Regions from separate parts of the Homo sapiens genome. Here region 1 is linked to region 2. A link means that fine-mapping ties the variant in region 2 to the expression of a gene that starts in the linked region. Tissue or cell type: thyroid. Region 2 holds a variant in brackets; the other region holds the start of a gene. All regions are shown on one strand. Distances are between the middles of the regions.

The links. PIP is the estimated chance that this variant, and not a neighbour inherited with it, causes the effect.
Region 1: KLK4 starts here. The variant in region 2 is the best candidate, but not a certain one, in a credible set for the expression of KLK4 in thyroid (GTEx, PIP 0.73).

What each region holds. Positions count from the first base shown.
Region 1 is chr19:50,906,390-50,916,298 of GRCh38, forward strand. It overlaps KLK4 (kallikrein related peptidase 4), which reads right to left and starts at 5,006. Exons shown (of 6, transcript NM_004917.5): 1 at 4,950-5,006; 2 at 4,289-4,360; 3 at 2,863-3,025; 4 at 2,190-2,440; 5 at 1,970-2,106; 6 at 1-697. The coding sequence starts at 4,349. The coding sequence ends at 545.
Region 2 is chr19:50,863,581-50,873,027 of GRCh38, forward strand. No RefSeq gene overlaps it. Among named protein-coding and RNA genes, the nearest start is that of KLK2, 5.1 kb to the right of the region's middle. RefSeq lists promoters at 2,840-9,447, 9,259-9,447, enhancers at 4,705-6,471, 5,046-6,213, 5,421-6,304, 5,686-6,272, 6,033-6,055 and 1 more and a cis regulatory region at 6,033-6,055. The variant A/C (reference allele first, on the strand shown) is at 7,063.

The DNA of each region.
Region 1 (9,909 bases), 43 kb after region 2:
GGGACAAAAAATGAAAAACCAACTGGTAAGGTTGGGTCAACGTGCCACAAGGGGGCACTGTGTACAGGGAGAGTCTAGGTGGCATTGGACCGCTGGGTCTGAGGGAGGAGGGGCTGGGACCTGGACCTCTGGGTCTGGGGAAGGAGGGGTTGGGGGCCTGGACCTCTGAGTCTGAGGGAGGAGGGGTTGGGGGCCTGGACCCCTGGGTCTGAGGGAGGAGGGGCTGGGGGGTCTGGACTCCTGGGTCTGAGGGAGGAGGGGCTGGACTCCTGGGTCTGAGGGAGGAGGGGCTGGGGGGTCTGGACTCCTGGGTCTGAGGGAGGAGGGGCTGGACTCCTGGGTCTGAGGGAGGAGGGGCTGGGGGGTCTGGACTCCTGGGTCTGAGGGAGGAGGGGCTGGGGATCTGTACCCTTGGTTTGAGGGAGGAGGGGCTGGGGGCCTGGACTCCTGGGCCTGAGGGAGGAGGGGCTGGGAACAGATATTCCTGAATTCCTTCCGCAGGATGTATTTGGGGGTCAATTTCATGGGTTCCCAGTCCCCAGAGTTAACTGGCCTGGACGGTTTTCTCTATCCACTCAGTGAATTTGCAGAGGTTGGTGTAGACACCTGGCACGCCAACTTGGCCACACGGGGCTTTTCCGAAAGACACAAGGCCCTGCAAGTACCCGTTGCAGATCAGGGGCCCCCCAGAGTCACCCTGTTGTGAAGAGAGGGAGAGTCAGAATTCAAAACACAGAGAGGTGGAAATGGATGTGGGCTCAGAAAGGAACTAAATGAGACTGAGAAACAAAGACAGAACCATCATCAATAACAACATAGCCCAGCAACATATCTGTTGGAAGTCCCATTCCAGATCCCTGACTTCATCTAATCCTGCTTCCCGATGTCCTATGTCCTGAATGCTGGCTGCTTCTCTTGGGCTTGTGGTCTGTCTGTTTCTGTTTGTCTGTCTCTCCTTTGTCTCCTTTGTGGCTTGTTTATCTGTCTCAGTGTCTCTGCATCTCTTTGTAAAGTCTTTTTTTTTTTTTTTTTTTTGAGACAGAGTCTTACTCTGTTGCCCCAGCTGGAGTATAGTGGTGTGATCTCAACTCACTTCAACCTCTGCCTCCCATATTCAAGCAATTCTTCTGCCTCAGCCTCCCAAGTAGCTGGGATTACAGGCGCCTGCCACCATATCCAGCTAACTTTTGTATTTTTAGTACAGACAGGATTTCACCATTTTGGCCAGGCTGGTCTTGAACTCCTTACCTCAAGTGATCTGCCTGCCTCGCCTCCCAAAGTGCTGGGATTACAGGCATGAGCCACCCTGCCCAGCCTCTTTGTAGAGTCTTGATTTTTCCTGTTTCTCTTCGTGTTTCACCTCTATGAATCTGTGTCACTGTTTCCCTCTGGGTACACAGTTGACCCTTGAACAACCCTGGTTTGAACTGCACAAGTCCACTTATACTTGGATTTTTTCAATAAACACATTAGAAAAATTTTAGGAGAGTTGCAACAATTTAAAAAAATTCACAGACGAACTGTGTAGCTTAGAAATATCAAAAAATTCCAACAAAGGTATATCATGAATGCATAAAACGTATGCATAAATCGACTATTTATGTTATTGGTAAGGCTCCCCGTCAACAGTAGGCTATTTCTAGTCAGGTTTTTGGGGAGTCAAAAGTTATAAGAGGATTTTCTGTTGGGTGGAGGTCACCGCCCTCAGGCCCCATGCTGTTGGAAGGTCAACTGCATTTCTATGTGTGTGTGTTTCTGCCTCCCCATGTCTGTTTCTGTTTCTCTCTTCCTTTGCTTCTCTTTATTCCTGTGTTTATTTCTCTGTTTCTCTCAGTTTCTCTCTCTAGTTGTCACTGTCTCCCTGTGTGTCTCTCCATCTCTGCATCTCGCCATGCGGCCCTGTGTGTCTCTGTCTCCCCCTTCTCCACCCTTCCCTGAGTCGCCTGCCCTCCCCTTTCCCCTCTCTCACGTTGCAGGAGTCCTTCTGGTCTTGCCCTCCGCCGGCGCAGAACATGCTGGGGTGGTACAGCGGGTCATAGAGCTTACTGCAGACCTCCTCAGACACCACCGACACGTTCACGCACTGCAGCACGGTAGGCATTCTGCCTGGGACGCAGAGCTCTGGGTCAGCCCCCGCGACTGGGCAGAGGACCTCCTTGAAGAGGGCAGACACACACCCGTGAGCTCACCGTTCGCCAGCAGACCCCAGCCAGAAACGAGGCAAGAGTTCCCCGCGGTAGGGCACTGCGAAGCAATGCTGATGCTCCGGATGGTGTCAGACTCGGACACGGATTCGTCCAACTTGATGAGCATGAGGTCGTTAGCGAGCAAGGGTCTGTTGTACTCTGGGTGCCGTACGGAGAGGCTGGCCTCCACCATCTGGCTCCCTGGCTCTTGGTCGGCCTCAAGACTGTGCAGGCCCAGCCCGATGGTGTAGGAGCTGTGGGCCACGGAGGGCAGGTCAGTTTTGTGGCAACTACATCCTTACCTCCATTCTCATCTTCAACCCCATTCCCATCCCCATCTCCTAACCCCAACCCCACCCTCTTCGCTAAACACCCTAAGAGCTACTTAACCATGGTCTCAAATCCTCATTCACAAAAATTCAGGGACAAGAACTTGCCTTAGTTCACTAGAGACTCAGCACTGGGCTGAGATTTCAAGTCAGGACTCTCTGAGTCCTTCCGAAGCAAGATTCCCGCCTCCCAGCCCTTCCCTCTGGGGCTCCCCGGATCCAGGCTCATTCCGTCCTCCTCCCAGAGCCTTCACCGCTGTTTCCCCCTGAGCACCCCAAGATGAGCCTGATATTAGGCCCCGCCCCCGGACCCAGGCCCTGCCCACTCCCCCTACCTCTGCACTCACTTCTGGAAACAGTGTGCGGCTGACAGCACCCACTGCGGATGCACCAGGACGCCCGAGCAGAACAATTCGTTTTCCATGACCAGTGCCGCCTGCCAGGGCTGCGAGTGCGGGCTGCAGTCCTCGCCGTTTATGATTTGGCTGCAGCTACCAGAGACGAGCGATCCTGAGGGCGGAGTCAGGGATGGGATCGGGACCAGGAGGCGGGCCCAGGGTTCCTGGGGGTGGGCTTACCGAGCAGGGGCGTGGTCAGAGGTTCAGGAGCAGTCAGGGCTCCTCGGGGCGGAGTCAGGGCTGGGAACGGGCTCAGGAGGCGGGCCCAGGGCTCTTGGGGGAGGGGTTACCGAGCAGGGGCGTGGTCAGGGCTTCAGGAGCAGTCAGGACTCTTGGGGGGCCGAGTCAGGGCTGGGGGCGGGCCCAGGGGGCGGACCCAGGGCTCCTGGGGGTGGGGTTATGGTGCAGGGGTCATGATCGGAGCTTCAGGGGCTGGTCCAGGATATAGGCCTAGGGCTCCCAGGGGCGGTGATCACGGTGCAGGAGCCTGGTCAGGGATTCAGGGTAGTCAGGGCTCCTGGGAGGAGAGTCAGGGCATGGGGGTGGGCTGAGAAGGCGGGATCAGTGCTCCTAGGGTTGGGGTTACAGCGCAGGGGCGCCATCAAGGCTTCAAGAGCTGGGTTATGGCTAGAGGCAGTCTCAGAAGGTGGGACCAGGGCTTCTGGGGCGGAGTCAGGGCTCTGGGGTGAGCTCTGGAGGTGAGACTGGTGCCATCGCGGTGCAAAGCCACGGTCAGGAGGGGTTCAACAGAGGAGTCTAGGCTCATAGCAGTAGGATCGGGTCCTTCGGGGTGAATTAAAGCTCAGGGGGTGGAGTTGTTGCTGGGAGCAAGGATCGGGTCACTTGTCTGCGCAGACTGATGCTCAAAGAGTCGGTCCTGCGCCGAGTCACTCCTATCCTCTCCCAGCCTTGCCCACAGTCACACCAAGCCACAAGCCCATGCACACCAAAACACCGTTTTATAGTCCTGTGAGGTGAGTTCCTTGGGGATGGGAGAGGGGGATCTCAGGACTGAAGACCCAGGAAGCAGGCACAGATTCCCAGCAATGGATCACGCCCCAGGAAGCACAATCTCCTGCACCCTCGGCTTCCCCTGTCCCCATATCATCATTACACTGTTGTCACTCCACCAGATATTCAGAGGCACAAACTGTCAGAGTCTCACAGGTACAACCACACACCCAGGCACACTGCCACACACAAATTTACCACGATACAAGGAGTTGCAGGGGCACAGCCATGGGGGACGGATAACACGGTACCGTCTCACAGGCAGCTTTGCAGTCACAAGCAAGAGGACACTGAGTCACACCTGAACATTAACAAACACTGTGCCCCCAAGCACGGACAGACACACACACGCATACTCAGATACCTGCGACACCAAGGATGAGGTACCCCAGGAACCAGCCCCAGGGATTTCCTGCTGTGGCCATCACGTCAGCACCTGGGGATGAGGACTGAGACTTAGCCGTGTCTGGGGATCTTCAGCCCAAGTCTCTCCATCCCTCTCTTTGTCCCTCCCTTTCTTCCCTCTGGGACGTTATTAGGTAGGCAAGAGCCTAGACCATCTACCCCCTCTCCCATCCATGGACCCAGAACCTAGAGAGACAGATTTAGAGACTGAGAGAGAAAAAGAGAGAGAGAGATGGGAAAAGAGAGAGAGAGAGAGAACTAGGTAGAAAGGAAAGTTTAGAGAAAGCATCTAGCCATCTGTGAATGGGGAGAGATGGTGTCTAGCCACCCACAAACAAGCATGGAGGGAAGACACACAGAGAATCAGAGCCGGAGAGACAGAGTGCTTGAGAGATATCCTCAGAGACAGTCTGAGAGTTAGACATGGAGATATAGATTCAGAGAGACAGAGAGACCCCTAACTAGAGACAGTGACTCCTAACTAGAGACAGTGAGAGATCTGTCTAGAGAGATGTGGAGACAGAAGGCACAGAGGCTGAGAATCCAGCGACATGGAGCTGTAGGGAGAGTTGGATCATGAACACTGCAGGCTTTTAGTGGGGGACCACCAGGCCTCTTACCCGGCCACCTCTGGGCTCCTGGATTCCACTGCTGGGCTGAGCTCCAGCCTGCTGCCTCCCGCAGGGGCCTCCTTGGGGCTTATAAGCATCCTCAGCCTGGGCTGGCCTGCCCCCAGGGGATGTGTTCCAGGGGTCAGGTGCTGCAAACTTCCAGCTCAACTCTCTCAGGCTGCCTCAACTCTGACCAGGCAGTGGTTGGGGGCCCAGAAGGGGCTGGCAGCAGGGTCTAGGGACCCAGGGAGGAGACCCCTGCCCAGATCCTAGACTCCACTCTCCTTTTTCTTTCTCTCTCTCTCTCTCATTCTTTCTCTTTTCATGTTCTTATTCTCTCTCATGAGATACCTCTCTCTTGCCTGTATCTCTCATTTTCTCTTTCTCTTCTTCTTTCTTTCTCTCATTCTCTCTCTCATTATTTTTCTCGTGTTTTCTTTCATTTCCTCTCATTCTCTCCTGTTCTCTCTCATGTTCTTTCTCTTTTTAAATTAAATCTCTCTCTCTCTCTCCCCTCCTCCTTCATCCCTCTCTTTCTGTGCTTCTCCAGCAAATTTCCCCAGGTTCGTATCCAGCCTACATCACGAACTATTTTTGGAACCTTGGGCAAGTGACTGCACCCCTGTGAGCCTGTTTTTCCAACTGTAAAACTGGAGTGACCATTATGCCCCATTTCCCAAGTGGATTCAAAGAGGTAATTCAGGGAAAGGCACACAGTGCCAGGCACATTGTAGGCTCTCGGTGAGCGGGAGAACTAAAAAGTCTTCGCTCAGTGAAAAGCAGCTGAGTGCCTACCACACTCCGAGCTCTGCGGCAGGTGCTGGGGCCACAGGAGGAACCAGCAAAGTCCTCGTCACTGGGGATCGCGTCCTACCCGGGGGCACAGACCATAAAGGAAAACTGCAGGGACCAGCATATAAGGTGGTGGTCGGGGAGACTCAGAGAAGGGGAACATTTAAGCTGAGATCCCAGGGAAGAGGAGGAGGAGGGTCGCCGCAGCAGGGGCGGTTGCGGGGTGCAGGGGAGAACTTGGCTCCAGCCAGAGGAGGGCAGGGCGGGTAGGAGGGCAGGGCGGGTAGGAGCGCAGACCGGGAACCGGGCGGGCCTGCAGGAGTTTACGTACCAGGATTAAGGAGCTTGGGTTTTACTTAAGTGCAATGGATTTTAAGCACGAGGATGGAGTGACATAATCTTATTTACTTTTTAAAAACTTCCAGCTTGGAGAGTGATGGTGGGGGCGGGGCGGGGGGCAGTGGCAACAGCCCAGGTGGGAGGTGACGGGGTCAAGGGAGAAGAGAGGTGAATGGACACGGGGTCCCCTCTGCATGTGGAGCCAAGTTACTGCCCGATGGATGGAAAGTGGGGGGCCAGGAGCAGAGGGGCCAAGGATGGCGTGGAGGCTTGGTCTGCTGGCTTGCGCTCTACGGATCTTGTGGAGACGCATAGGTGCGGGAAGGGGGGTGGGGGGTGAGAGGGTGCCGTAGACCGCGGAGGGTGCACGGAGGGGCAGGCCGAGGTCAGGACTGCCGAGAAACAGCGGGGACTCATCAGGGGAGAGGTGGTGTTTACAGCCACGAGGCCGGGTGAGATCATCCAAGGAGTGGGTGGGTGTAGACCGCGGAGCCGGCGCGGGTGAGGGATAGTGCCCGCAGGTGACCGCGACGAGGCAGGAATGTCTCTGTGTCTCTCTGTCTCTCCTGGGTCTCTAACACTCTTTCCTTCTCCTTCCTTACTTCTTTCCCCCACAGCCCACCCCGTGTGTCTGTCTCTCTTTCTCTCTGGCTCTCTTTTCCTCTGCCTCTCTGGTCCCATCTCTGTCTCTCTCCCCCTTGTCTCTGTTTCTCTCACCTGCCAGACTGGAAGCATCCCAAGTGAGACCCTCCCCCAACTCTGTCCTGGGCCCGTGCGCCCCCAGATAACTCTGGGCAGGACGGGACATAGGCTGGGACCACAGAACAGGAAGCCCTGGCAGGTTTCTGTCTCTGTCTCTCTTTTCCCTGTCCCTGTCCCTTTCTCTCTCTGATCCCTTCTCTCTCGCTCTCCCTCTGACCTCTGTCTGTGACCCTCTGATCTCTGTCTGTCTCTGTCTGCCCCTGTGTGTCTCTCTTTCCTCCTGTCTCTGTCTCACCTTGCCTTCTCTCTCTGTCTGTGTCTCTGCACCTGTGTCTGTCCATCTTTCTCTGTGTCTCTCTCCTCCCATCTCTGTCTCTGTCTGTGGCTCCGCACCTGTCTCTGTCCATCTTTCTCTGTGTCTCTCTCCTCCCATCTCTGTCTCTGTCTCTCTGTCTGTCTCCGCACCTGTCTGTCCATCTTTCTCTGTGTCTCTCTCCTCCCATCTCTGTCTCTGTCTCTCTGTCTGTCTCTGCACCTGTGTCTGTCCATCTTTCTCTGTGTCTCTCTCCTCCCATCTCTGTCTCTGTCTCTCTGTCTGTGTCTCCGCACCTGTGTGTCTGTCCATCTTTCTCTGTGTCTCTCTCTCCTCCCATCTCTGTCTCTGTCTCTCTGTCTGTGTCTCCGCACCTGTGTCTCTGTCCATCTTTCTCTGTGTCTCTCTCTCCTCCCATCTCTGTCTCTGTCTCTCTGTCTGTGGCTTCGCACCTGTCTCTGTCCATCTTTCTCTGTGTCTCTCTCTCCTCCCATCTCTGTCTCTGTCTCTCTGTCTGTGTCTCCGCACCTGTGTGTCTGTCCATCTTTCTCTGTCTCTCTCTCCTCCCATCTCTGTCTCTGTCTCTCTGTCTGTCTCCGCACCTGTCTGTCCATCTTTCTCTGTGTCTCTCTCCTCCCATCTCTGTCTCTGTCTCTCTGTCTGTCTCTGCACCTGTGTCTGTCCATCTTTCTCTGTGTCTCTCTCCTCCCATCTCTGTCTCTGTCTCTCTGTCTGTGTCTCCGCACCTGTGTGTCTGTCCATCTTTCTCTGTGTCTCTCTCCTCCCATCTCTGTCTCTGTCTCTCTGTCTGTGTCTCCGCACCTGTGTCTCTGTCCATCTTTCTCTGTGTCTCTCTCTCTCCTCCCATCTCTGTCTCTGTCTCTCTGTCTGTGGCTTCGCACATGTCTCTGTCCATCTTTCTCTGTGTCTCTCTCTCCTCCCATCTCTGTCTCTGTCTCTCTGTCTGTGTCTCCGCACCTGTGTGTCTGTCCATCTTTCTCTGTGTCTCTCTCCTCCCATCTCTGTCTCTGTCTCTCTGTCTGTGTCTCCGCACCTGTCTCTGTCCATCTTTCTCTGTGTCTCTCTCCTCCCATCTCTGTCTCTGTCTCTCTGTCTGTGGCTCTGCACCTTTGTCTCTGTCTATCTTTCTCTGTCTCCACTTTCCTCCTGTCTTCTCTCATGTTGCTCTGTCTTTGTTTTCCATGCGCTTCCAACACTTCTCCCTTCGCTCTCTTCATTGTGTCTCAACTCAAGTGTTACTTCTTCAGAGCCCTTCCCTGAGCCCTCCCCTAGTCTGATTCAGGGTCTTCACTCCCCTATTTGTTTTTTCATCTTATAGCATCCTACATGCTCCTTTAGAGAATTTGGTACAATGTATACACGTATTATTATGTGTTTCTTTTTCTTTTTTTTTCTTTTTTGTTTGTTTGTTTGTTTCTTTGAGATGGAGTCTCACTGTGTTACCCAGGCTGGAGTAGAGTGGTGCGATCTCTGCTCACTGCAACCTCCGCCCCCCGGGTTCAAGCGATTCTCCTGCCTCAGCCTCCCCAGTAACTGGGATTATAGGTGCCTGCCACCAATTCTGGCTAATTTTTGTATTTTTAGTAGAGATGGGGTTTCACCATGTTGGCTAGGCTGGTCTCAAACTCCTGACTTCAGGTGATCCGCCCACCTTGGCCTCCCAAAGTGCTGGGATTACAGGCGAGAGCCACCGCGCCCGTCTTGTGTGTTTATTTTTCTAGTAGCTGTTTCTTTCATTAGTGTGGGAGCCCCTTGGGGACAGGGCTGGTGTCTGTTATGTTCACTGATAAAAACTATTCACTGCAGATGTGTTGAGTGGATGGATAAAGGGAGATACAAAAATAGAGAGAGACAGACAGGAGAGGGAGAGATGAAGGCTGACGGAGAGAGAAAATAACAACAGACAACAATGGTAGCTTACTATTAATTAACCTTTAGAATATGTTAAATTAATTGTAAGGAGGTCAAGAACTTACCTTATGTCTGGCCCTCTTCTAAGTATTTTAAATGCAATAACAAATGTATTCCTCAAAAAAATCTAAGAAGTAGATGCTGCTATGAACTTTGTTTGACAGATGGAGAAACTGAGGCACAGAGAGGGTAAGTAGTTTACCAAGGTCACAGAAAGACTGAGGCCAAAAGAGAAGAACAGACAGAAGTGGGTAGATGGAGAGTAGGAGAGAGCTGGGAACACACTGAGAGATGTGGCCAAAAAGATAGGAAGACGCTGAAAGAGAGACACGTCTCAGGAATTAGGAATAATCATCACTTTAAAAATAATAAAATATCAGGTTGGGCGCGGTGGCTCACGCCTGCAATCCCAGCACTTTGGGAGGCTGAGGCGGGTGGATCATCTGAGGTCAGGAGTTCGAGACCAGCCTGGCCAACATGGCAAAACCCCATCTCTACTAAAAATACAAAAATTACCTGGGCGTGGTGGTGGGCCCCTGTAATCCCAGCAACTTGGGAGGCTGAGGCAGGAGAATTACTTGAACCCGGGAGGCAGAGGTTGCAGTGAGTCGAGATCGCGCCATTGCACTCCAGCCTAGGTAACAAGAGTGAAACTCTGTCTCAGAAAACAAACAAGTAATAATAATAATGATAAAATATCTAACATTTATCTATCACCTCTCTTCTAGTTGTCATGGTAACAATTTTATACAAGTTAACTAGTTTTAATTTTCATAACTCCCTGAGGTACTCATCATTATTCCCAATGTGATGAAAGAGGAAATGAACGCACAGAGAGGGCAAGCTACTTATTGAAGATCACACAGCAAAGCAGCCATGCACATGGGCTGC
Region 2 (9,447 bases):
TCATACTACCCAACAGGTAGGTTTTCAACCCACTCCCCCTCTTTTCCTCCCCATTCTAGTAGTGTGCAGTGTCTATTGTTCTCATGTTTATGTCTATGTGTGCTCCAGGTTTAGCTCCCACCTGTAAGTGAGAACGTGTGGTATTTGATTTTCTGTCCCTGTGTTAATTCACTTAGGATTATGGCTTCCAGCTCCATTCATATTGCTGTAAAGGATATGATTCATTTTTCATGGCCATGCAGTATTCCATATTGCGTATAGATCACATTTTCTTTCTTTTTTTTTTTTGAGACGGAGTCTTGCTTTGCTGCCTAGGCTGGAGTGCAGTAGCACGATCTCGGCTCACTGCAAGCTTCACCTCCGGGGTTCACGTCATTCTTCTGTCTCAGCTTCCCAAGTAGCTGGGACTACAGGCGCCCGCCACCACGTCCGGCTAATTTTTTTGTGTGTTTTTAGTAGAGATGGGGGTTTCACTGTGTTAGCCAGGATGGTCTTGATCTCCTGACCTTGTGGTCCACCTGCCTCGGTCTCCCAAAGTGCTGGGATTACAGGGGTGAGCCACTGCGCCCGGCCCATATATACCACATTTTCTTTAACCAATCCACCATTGATGGGCAACTAGGTAGATTCCATGGATTCCACAGTTTTGCTATTGTGTGCAGTGTGGCAGTAGACATATGAATGAATGTGTCTTTTTGGTATAATGATTTGCATTCCTTTGGGTATACAGTCATTAATAGGAGTGCTGGGTTGAACGGTGGCTCTGTTTAAAATTCTTTGAGAATTTTCCAAACTGTTTGCCATAGAGAACAAACTAATTTACATTTCCACGAACAGTATATAAGCATTCCCTTTTCTCCACAGCTTTGTCATCATGGTTTTTTTTTCTTTATTTTAAAAAAGAATATGTTGTTGTTTTCCCAGGGTACATGTGCAGGATGTGCAGGTTTGTTACATAGGTAGTAAACGTGAGCCATGGTGGTTTGCTGCACCTGTCAACCCATTACCTGGGTATGAAGCCCTGCCTGCATTAGCTCTTTTCCCTAATGCTCTCACTACTGCCCCACCCTCACCCTGACAGGGCAAACAGACAACCTACAGAATGGGAGGAAATTTTTGCAATCTATTCATCTGACAAAGGTCAAGAATATCCAGAATCTACAAGGAACTTAAGCAAATTTTTACTTTTTAATAATAGCCACTCTGACTGGCGTGAAATGGTATCTCATTGTGGTTTTCATTTGAATTTCTCTGATGATCAGTGACAATGAGCATTTTTTCATATTTGTTGGCTGCTTGTACGTCTTTTGAGAAGTGTCTCTTCATGCCTTTTGGCCACTTTAATGGGATTATTTTTTGCTTTTTAGTTTAAGTTCCTTATAGATTCTGGATATTAGACTTCTTATTGGATGCATAGTTTGTGAATACTCTCTTCCATTCTGTAGGTTGTCTGTTTACTCTATTGATGGCTTCTTTTGCTGTGCCGAAGCATCTTAGTTTAATTAGAAACCACCTGCCAATTTTTGTTTTTGTTGCAATTGCTTTTGGGGACTTAGTCATAAACTCTTTGCCAAGGTCTGGGTCAAGAAGAGTATTTCCTAGGTTTTCTTCTAGAATTTTGAAAGTCTGAATGTAAACATTTGCATTTTTAATGCATCTTGAGTTAGCTTTTGTATATGTGAAAGGTCTACTCTCATTTTCTTTCCCTCTTTCTTTCTTTCTTTTCTTTCCCTCTTTCTTTCTTTCTTTTCTTTCTTTCTTTCTTTCTTTCTTTCTTTCTTTCTTTCTTTCTTTTTGTCCTTCTTTCTTTCTTTCTCTTTCTTTCTCTCTTTCTTTTTTTTTTTTTTTGATGGAGTATTGCTCTGTTGCCCAGGCTGCAGTGCAGTGGCACGATCTTGGCTCACTGCAACCTCTGCCTCCTGGGTTCAACTGATTCTCCTGCATCAGCCTTCCAAGTAGCTGGGATTATAGGCGCCCGCCACCACGCCCGACTAATTTTTGTATTTTTAGTAGAGACGGGGTTGTGCCATGTTGGCCAGGCTGGTTTGAAACTCCTGACCTCAAACGATCTGCCTGCCTTGGCCTCCCAAAGTGCTGGGATTACAGGTGTGAGCCACTGTGCCCAGCCAAGAATGTCATTTTCTAAGAGGTCCAAGAACCTCAAGATATTTTGGGACCTTGAGAAGAGAGGAATTCATACAGGTATTACAAGCACAGCCTAATGGCAAATCTTTGGCGTGGCTTGGCTTCAAGACTTTAGGCTCTTAAAAGTCGAATCCAAAATTTTTTATAAAAGCTCCAGCTAAGCTACCTTAAAAGGGGCCTGTATGGCTGATCACTCTTCTTGCTATACTTTACACAAATAAACAGGCCAAATATAATGAGGCCAAAATTTATTTTGCAAATAAATTGGTCCTGCTATGATTTACTCTTGGTAAGAACAGGGAAAATAGAGAAAAATTTAGATTGCATCTGACCTTTTTTTCTGAATTTTTATATGTGCCTACAATTTGAGCTAAATCCTGAATTATTTTCTGGTTGCAAAAACTCTCTAAAGAAGAACTTGGTTTTCATTGTCTTCGTGACACATTTATCTGGCTCTTTACTAGAACAGTTTTCTTGTTTTTGGTGTTCTAGCTTGTGTGCCTTACAGTTCTACTCTTCAAATTATTGTTATGTGTATCTCATAGTTTTCCTTCTTTTGAGAAAACTGAAGCCATGGTATTCTGAGGACTAGAGATGACTCAACACAGCTGGTGAATCTCCTCATATGCAATCCACTGGGCTTGATCTGCTTCAGATTGCTGATGCACTGCTGCTAAAGCTATACATTTAAAACCCTCACTAAAGGATCAGGGACCATCATGGAAGAGGAGGAAACATGAAATTGTAAGAGCCAGATTCGGGGGGTAGAGTGTGGAGGTCAGAGCAACTCCACCTTGAATAAGAAGGTAAAGCAACCTATCCTGAAAGCTAACCTGCCATGGTGGCTTCTGATTAACCCCTGTTCTGGGAAGACTGACAGTTTGGGTCTGTGTCATTGCCCAAATCTCATGTTAAATTGTAATCCCCAGTGTTCGGAGGTGGGACTTGGTGGTAGGTGATTCGGTCATGGGAGTAGATTTTCTTCTTTGTGGTGTTACAGTGATAGTGAGTGAGTTCTCGTGAGATCTGGTCATTTAAAAGTGTGTGGCCCCTCCCCTCCCTCTCTTGGTCCTCCTACTGCCATGTAAGATACCTGCTCCTGCTTTGCCTTCTACCATAAGTAAAAGCCCCCTGAGGCCTCCCCAGAAGCAGATGCCACCATGCTTCCTGTACAGCCTGCAGAACCATCAGCCAATTAAACCTCTTTTCTGTATAAATTACCAGTCTTGAGTATTTCTTTACAGCAGTGTGAGAACGGACTAATACAAGGATCTCCAAAATTCCAAGTTTATGTATTCTTTCTTGCCAAATAGCAGGTATTTACCATAAATCCTGTCCTTAGGTCAAACAACCTTGATGGCATCGTACTTCAATTGTCTTACACATTCCTTCTGAATGACTCCTCCCCTATGGCATATAAGCCCTGGGTCTTGGGGGATAATGGCAGAGGGGTCCACCATCTTGTCTGGCTGCCACCTGAGACACAGACATGGCTTCTGTTGGTAAGTCTCTATTAAATGTTTCTTTCTAAGAAACTGGATTTGTCAGCTTGTTTCTTTGGACTCTCAGCTTCCTCAGACTTTGGGGTAGGTTGCACAACCCTGCCCACCATGAAACAAATGTTTAATATGATAAATATGGATAGATATAATCCACATAAATAAAAGCTCTTGGAGGGCCCTCAATAATTGTTAAGAGTGTAAATGTGTCCAAAGATGGAAAATGTTTGAGAACTACTGTCCCAGAGATTTTCCTGAGTTCTAGAGTGTGGGAATATAGAACCTGGAGCTTGGCTTCTTCAGCCTAGAATCAGGAGTATGGGGCTGAAGTCTGAAGCTTGGCTTCAGCAGTTTGGGGTTGGCTTCCGGAGCACATATTTGACATGTTGCGACTGTGGTTTGGGGTTTGGTATTTGCTCTGAATCCTAATGTCTGTCCTTGAGGCATCTAGAATCTGAAATCTGTGGTCAGAATTCTATTATCTTGAGTAGGACATCTCCAGTCCTGGTTCTGCCTTCTAGGGCTGGAGTCTGTAGTCAGTGACCCGGTCTGGCATTTCAACTTCATATACAGTGGGCTATCTTTTGGTCCATGTTTCAACCAAACAACCGAATAAACCATTAGAACCTTTCCCCACTTCCCTAGCTGCAATGTTAAACCTAGGATTTCTGTTTAATAGGTTCATATGAATAATTTCAGCCTGATCCAACTTTACATTCCTTCTACCGTTATTCTACACCCACCTTAAAAATGCATTCCCAATATATTCCCTGGATTCTACCTATATATGGTAATCCTGGCTTTGCCAGTTTCTAGTGCATTAACATACCTGATTTACATTCTTTTACTTTAAAGTGGAAATAAGAGTCCCTCTGCAGAGTTCAGGAGTTCTCAAGATGGCCCTTACTTCTGACATCAATTGAGATTTCAAGGGAGTCACCAAGATCATCCTCAGGTTCAGTGATTGCTGGTAGCCCTCATATAACTCAATGAAAGCTGTTATGCTCATGGCTATGGTTTATTACAGCAAAAGAATAGAGATGAAAATCTAGCAAGGGAAGAGTTGCATGGGGCAAAGACAAGGAGAGCTCCAAGTGCAGAGATTCCTGTTGTTTTCTCCCAGTGGTGTCATGGAAAGCAGTATCTTCTCCATACAATGATGTGTGATAATATTCAGTGTATTGCCAATCAGGGAACTCAACTGAGCCTTGATTATATTGGAGCTTGGTTGCACAGACATGTCGACCACCTTCATGGCTGAACTTTAGTACTTAGCCCCTCCAGACGTCTACAGCTGATAGGCTGTAACCCAACATTGTCACCATAAATCACATTGTTAGACTATCCAGTGTGGCCCAAGCTCCCGTGTAAACACAGGCACTCTAAACAGGCAGGATATTTCAAAAGCTTAGAGATGACCTCTCAGGAGCTGAATGCAAAGACCTGGCCTCTTTGGGCAAGGAGAATCCTTTACTGCACACTCTCCTTCACAGGGTTATTGTGAGGATCAAATGTGGTCATGTGTGTGAGACACCAGCACATGTCTGGCTGTGGAGAGTGACTTCTATGTGTGCTAACATTGCTGAGTGCTAAGAAAGTATTAGGCATGGCTTTCAGCACTCACAGATGCTCATCTAATCCTCACAACATGGCTACAGGGTGGGCACTACTAGCCTCATTTGACAGAGGAAAGGACTGTGGATAAGAAGGGGGTGACCAATAGGTCAGAGTCATTCTGGATGCAAGGGGCTCCAGAGGACCATGATTAGACATTGTCTGCAGAGAAATTATGGCTGGATGTCTCTGCCCCGGAAAGGGGGATGCACTTTCCTTGACCCCCTATCTCAGATCTTGACTTTGAGGTTATCTCAGACTTCCTCTATGATACCAGGAGCCCATCATAATCTCTCTGTGCCCTCTCCCCTTCCTCAGTCTTACTGCCCACTCTTCCCAGCTCCATCTCCAGCTGGCCAGGTGTAGCCACAGTACCTAACTCTTTGCAGAGAACTATAAATGTGTATCCTACAGGGGAGAAAAAAAAAAGAACTCTGAAAGAGCTGACATTTTACCGACTTGCAAACACATAAGCTAACCTGCCAGTTTTGTGCTGGTAGAACTCATGAGACTCCTGGGTCAGAGGCAAAAGATTTTATTACCCACAGCTAAGGAGGCAGCATGAACTTTGTGTTCACATTTGTTCACTTTGCCCCCCAATTCATATGGGATGATCAGAGCAGTTCAGGTGGATGGACACAGGGGTTTGTGGCAAAGGTGAGCAACCTAGGCTTAGAAATCCTCAATCTTATAAGAAGGTACCAGCAAACTTGTCCAGTCTTTGTATCTGACGGAGATATTATCTTTATAATTGGGTTGAAAGCAGACCTACTCTGGAGGAACATATTGTATTTATTGTCCTGAACAGTAAACAAATCTGCTGTAAAATAGACGTTAACTTTATTATCTAAGGCAGTAAGCAAACCTAGATCTGAAGGCGATACCATCTTGCAAGGCTATCTGCTGTACAAATATGCTTGAAAAGATGGTCCAGAAAAGAAAACGGTATTATTGCCTTTGCTCAGAAGACACACAGAAACATAAGAGAACCATGGAAAATTGTCTCCCAACACTGTTCACCCAGAGCCTTCCACTCTTGTCTGCAGGACAGTCTTAACATCCCATCATTAGTGTGTCTACCACATCTGGCTTCACTGTGCCTAACCAAGATTTCTAGGTCCAGTTCCCCACCATGTTTGGCAGTGCCCCACTGCCAACCCCAGAATAAGGGAGTGCTCAGAATTTCGAGGGGACATGGGTGGGGATCAGAACTTCTGGGCTTGAGTGCAGAGGGGGCCCATACTCCTTGGTTCCGAAGGAGGAAGAGGCTGGAGGTGAATGTCCTTGGAGAGGAGGAATGTGGGTTCTGAACTCTTAAATCCCCAAGGGAGGAGACTGGTAAGGTCCCAGCTTCCGAGGTACTGACGTGGGAATGGCCTGAGAGGTCTAAGAATCCCGTATCCTCGGGAAGAAGGGGCTGAAATTGTGAGGGGTTGAGTTGCAGGGGTTTGTTAGCTTGAGACTCCTTGGTGGGTCCCTGGGAAGCAAGGACTGGAACCATTGGCTCCAGGGTTTGGTGTGAAGGTAATGGAATCTCCTGATTCTCAAAGGGTCAGAGGACTGAGAGTTGCCCATGCTTTGATCTTTCCATCTACTCCTTACTCCACTTGAGGGTAATCACCTACTCTTCTAGTTCCACAAGAGTGCGCCTGCGCGAGTATAATCTGCACATGTGCCATGTCCCGAGGCCTGGGGCATCATCCACTCATCATTCAGCATCTGCACTATGCGGGCGAGGCCGGCGCCATGACGTCATGTAGCTGCGACTATCCCTGCAGCGCGCCTCTCCCGTCACGTCCCAACC[A/C]TGGAGCTGTGGACGTGCGTCCCCTGGTGGATGTGGCCTGCGTGGTGCCAGGCCGGGGCCTGGTGTCCGATAAAGATCCTAGAACCACAGGAAACCAGGACTGAAAGGTGCTAGAGAATGGCCATATGTCGCTGTCCATGAAATCTCAAGGACTTCTGGGTGGAGGGCACAGGAGCCTGAACTTACGGGTTTGCCCCACTCCACTGTCCTCCCAAGTGAGTCTCCCAGATACGAGGCACTGTGCCAGCATCAGCTTCATCTGTACCACATCTTGTAACAGGGACTACCCAGGGCCCTGATGAACACCATGGTGTGTGCAGGAAGAGCGGGTGAAGGCACGGACTCCTGTGTGGTCAGAGCCCAGAGGGGGCCATGACGGGTGGGGAGGAGGCTGTGGACTGGCTCGAGAAGTGGGATGTGGTTGTGTTTGATCTCCTTTGGCCAGATAAAGTGCTGGATATAGCATTGAAAACGGAGTATGAAGACCAGTTAGAATGGAGGGTCAGGTTGGAGTTGAGTTACAGATGGGGTAAAATTCTGCTTCGGATGAGTTTGGGGATTGGCAATTTAAAGGTGGTTTGGGATGGCATGGCTTTGGGATGGAAATAGGTTTGTTTTTATGTTGGCTGGGAAGGGTGTGGGGATTGAATTGGGGATGAAGTAGGTTTAGTTTTGGAGATAGAATACATGGAGCTGGCTATTGCATGCGAGGATGTGCATTAGTTTGGTTTGATCTTTAAATGAAGGAGGCTATTAGGGTTGTCTTGAATTAGATTAAGTTGTGTTGGGTTGATGGGTTGGGCTTGTGGGTGATGTGGTTGGATTGGGCTGTGTTAAATTGGTTTGGGTCAGGTTTTGGTTGAGGTTATCATGGGGATGAGGATATGCTTGGGACACTGGATTCAGGTGGTTCTCATTCAAGCTGAGGCAAATTTCCTTTCAGACGGTCATTCCAGGGAACGAGTGGTTGTGTGGGGGAAATCAGGCCACTGGCTGTGAATATCCCTCTATCCTGGTCTTGAATTGTGATTATCTATGTCCACTTCTGTCTCCTTCACTGTACTTGGAATTGATCTGGTCATTCAGCTGGAAATGGGGGAAGATTTTGTCAAATTCTTGAGACACAGCTGGGTCTGGATCAGCGTAAGCTGCTCTGGTTTTATTGAACAGATGAAATCACATTTTTTTTTTCAAAATCAAAGAAATCTTATAGAGTTAACAGTGGACTCTTATAATAAGAGTTAACACCAGGACTCTTATTCTTGATTCTTTTCTGAGACACCAAAATGAGATTTCTCAATGCCACCCTAATTCTTTTTTTTTTTTTTTTTTTTTTTGAGACACAGTCTGGGTCTTTTGCTCTGTCACTCAGGCTGGAGCGCAGTGGTGTGATCATAGCTCACTGAACCCTTGACCTCCTGGACTTAAGGGATCCTCCTGCTTCAGCCTCCTGAGTAGATGGGGCTACAGGTGCTTGCCACCACACCTGGCTAATTAAATTTTTTTTTTTTTTTTGTAGAGAAAGGGTCTCACTTTGTTGCCCTGGCTGATCTTGAACTTCTGACTTCAAGTGATTCTTCAGCCTTGGACTCCCAAAGCACTGGGATTGCTGGCATGAGCCACTCACCGTGCCTGGCTTGCAGCTTAATCTTGGAGTGTATAAACCTGGCTCCTGATAGCTAGACATTTCAGTGAGAAGGAGGCATTGGATTTTGCATGAGGACAATTCTGACCTAGGAGGGCAGGTCAACAGGAATCCCCGCTGTACCTGTACGTTGTACAGGCATGGAGAATGAGGAGTGAGGAGCCACCGGAACCCCATATTGTTTAGTGGACATTGGATTTTGAAATAATAGGGAACTTGGTCTGGGAGAGTCATATTTCTGGATTGGACAATATGTGGTATCACAAGGTTTTATGATGAGGGAGAAATGTATGTGGGGAACCATTTTCTGAGTGTGGAAGTGCAAGAATCAGAGAGTACTGAATGCCAACGCTTCTATTTCAGGAACATGGTAAGTTGGAGGTCCAGCTTCTGGGCTCAGACGGGTATAGGGACCAGGAAGTCTCACAATCCGATCATTCTGATATTTCAGGGCATATTAGGTTTGGGGTGCAAAGGAAGTACTTGGGACTTAGGCACATGAGACTTTGTATTGAAAATCAATGATTGGGGCTGGCCGTGGTGGCTCACGCCTGTAATCTCATCACTTTGGGAGACCGAAGTGGGAGGATGGCTTGAGCCCAGGAGTTGGAGACCAGCCTAGGCAACATAGCCAGACCCTCTCTCTACAAAAAAATTAAAAATTAGCTGGATGTGGTGGTGCATGCTTGTGGTCTCAGCTATCCTGGAGGCTGAGACAGGAGAATCGGTTGAGTCTGGGA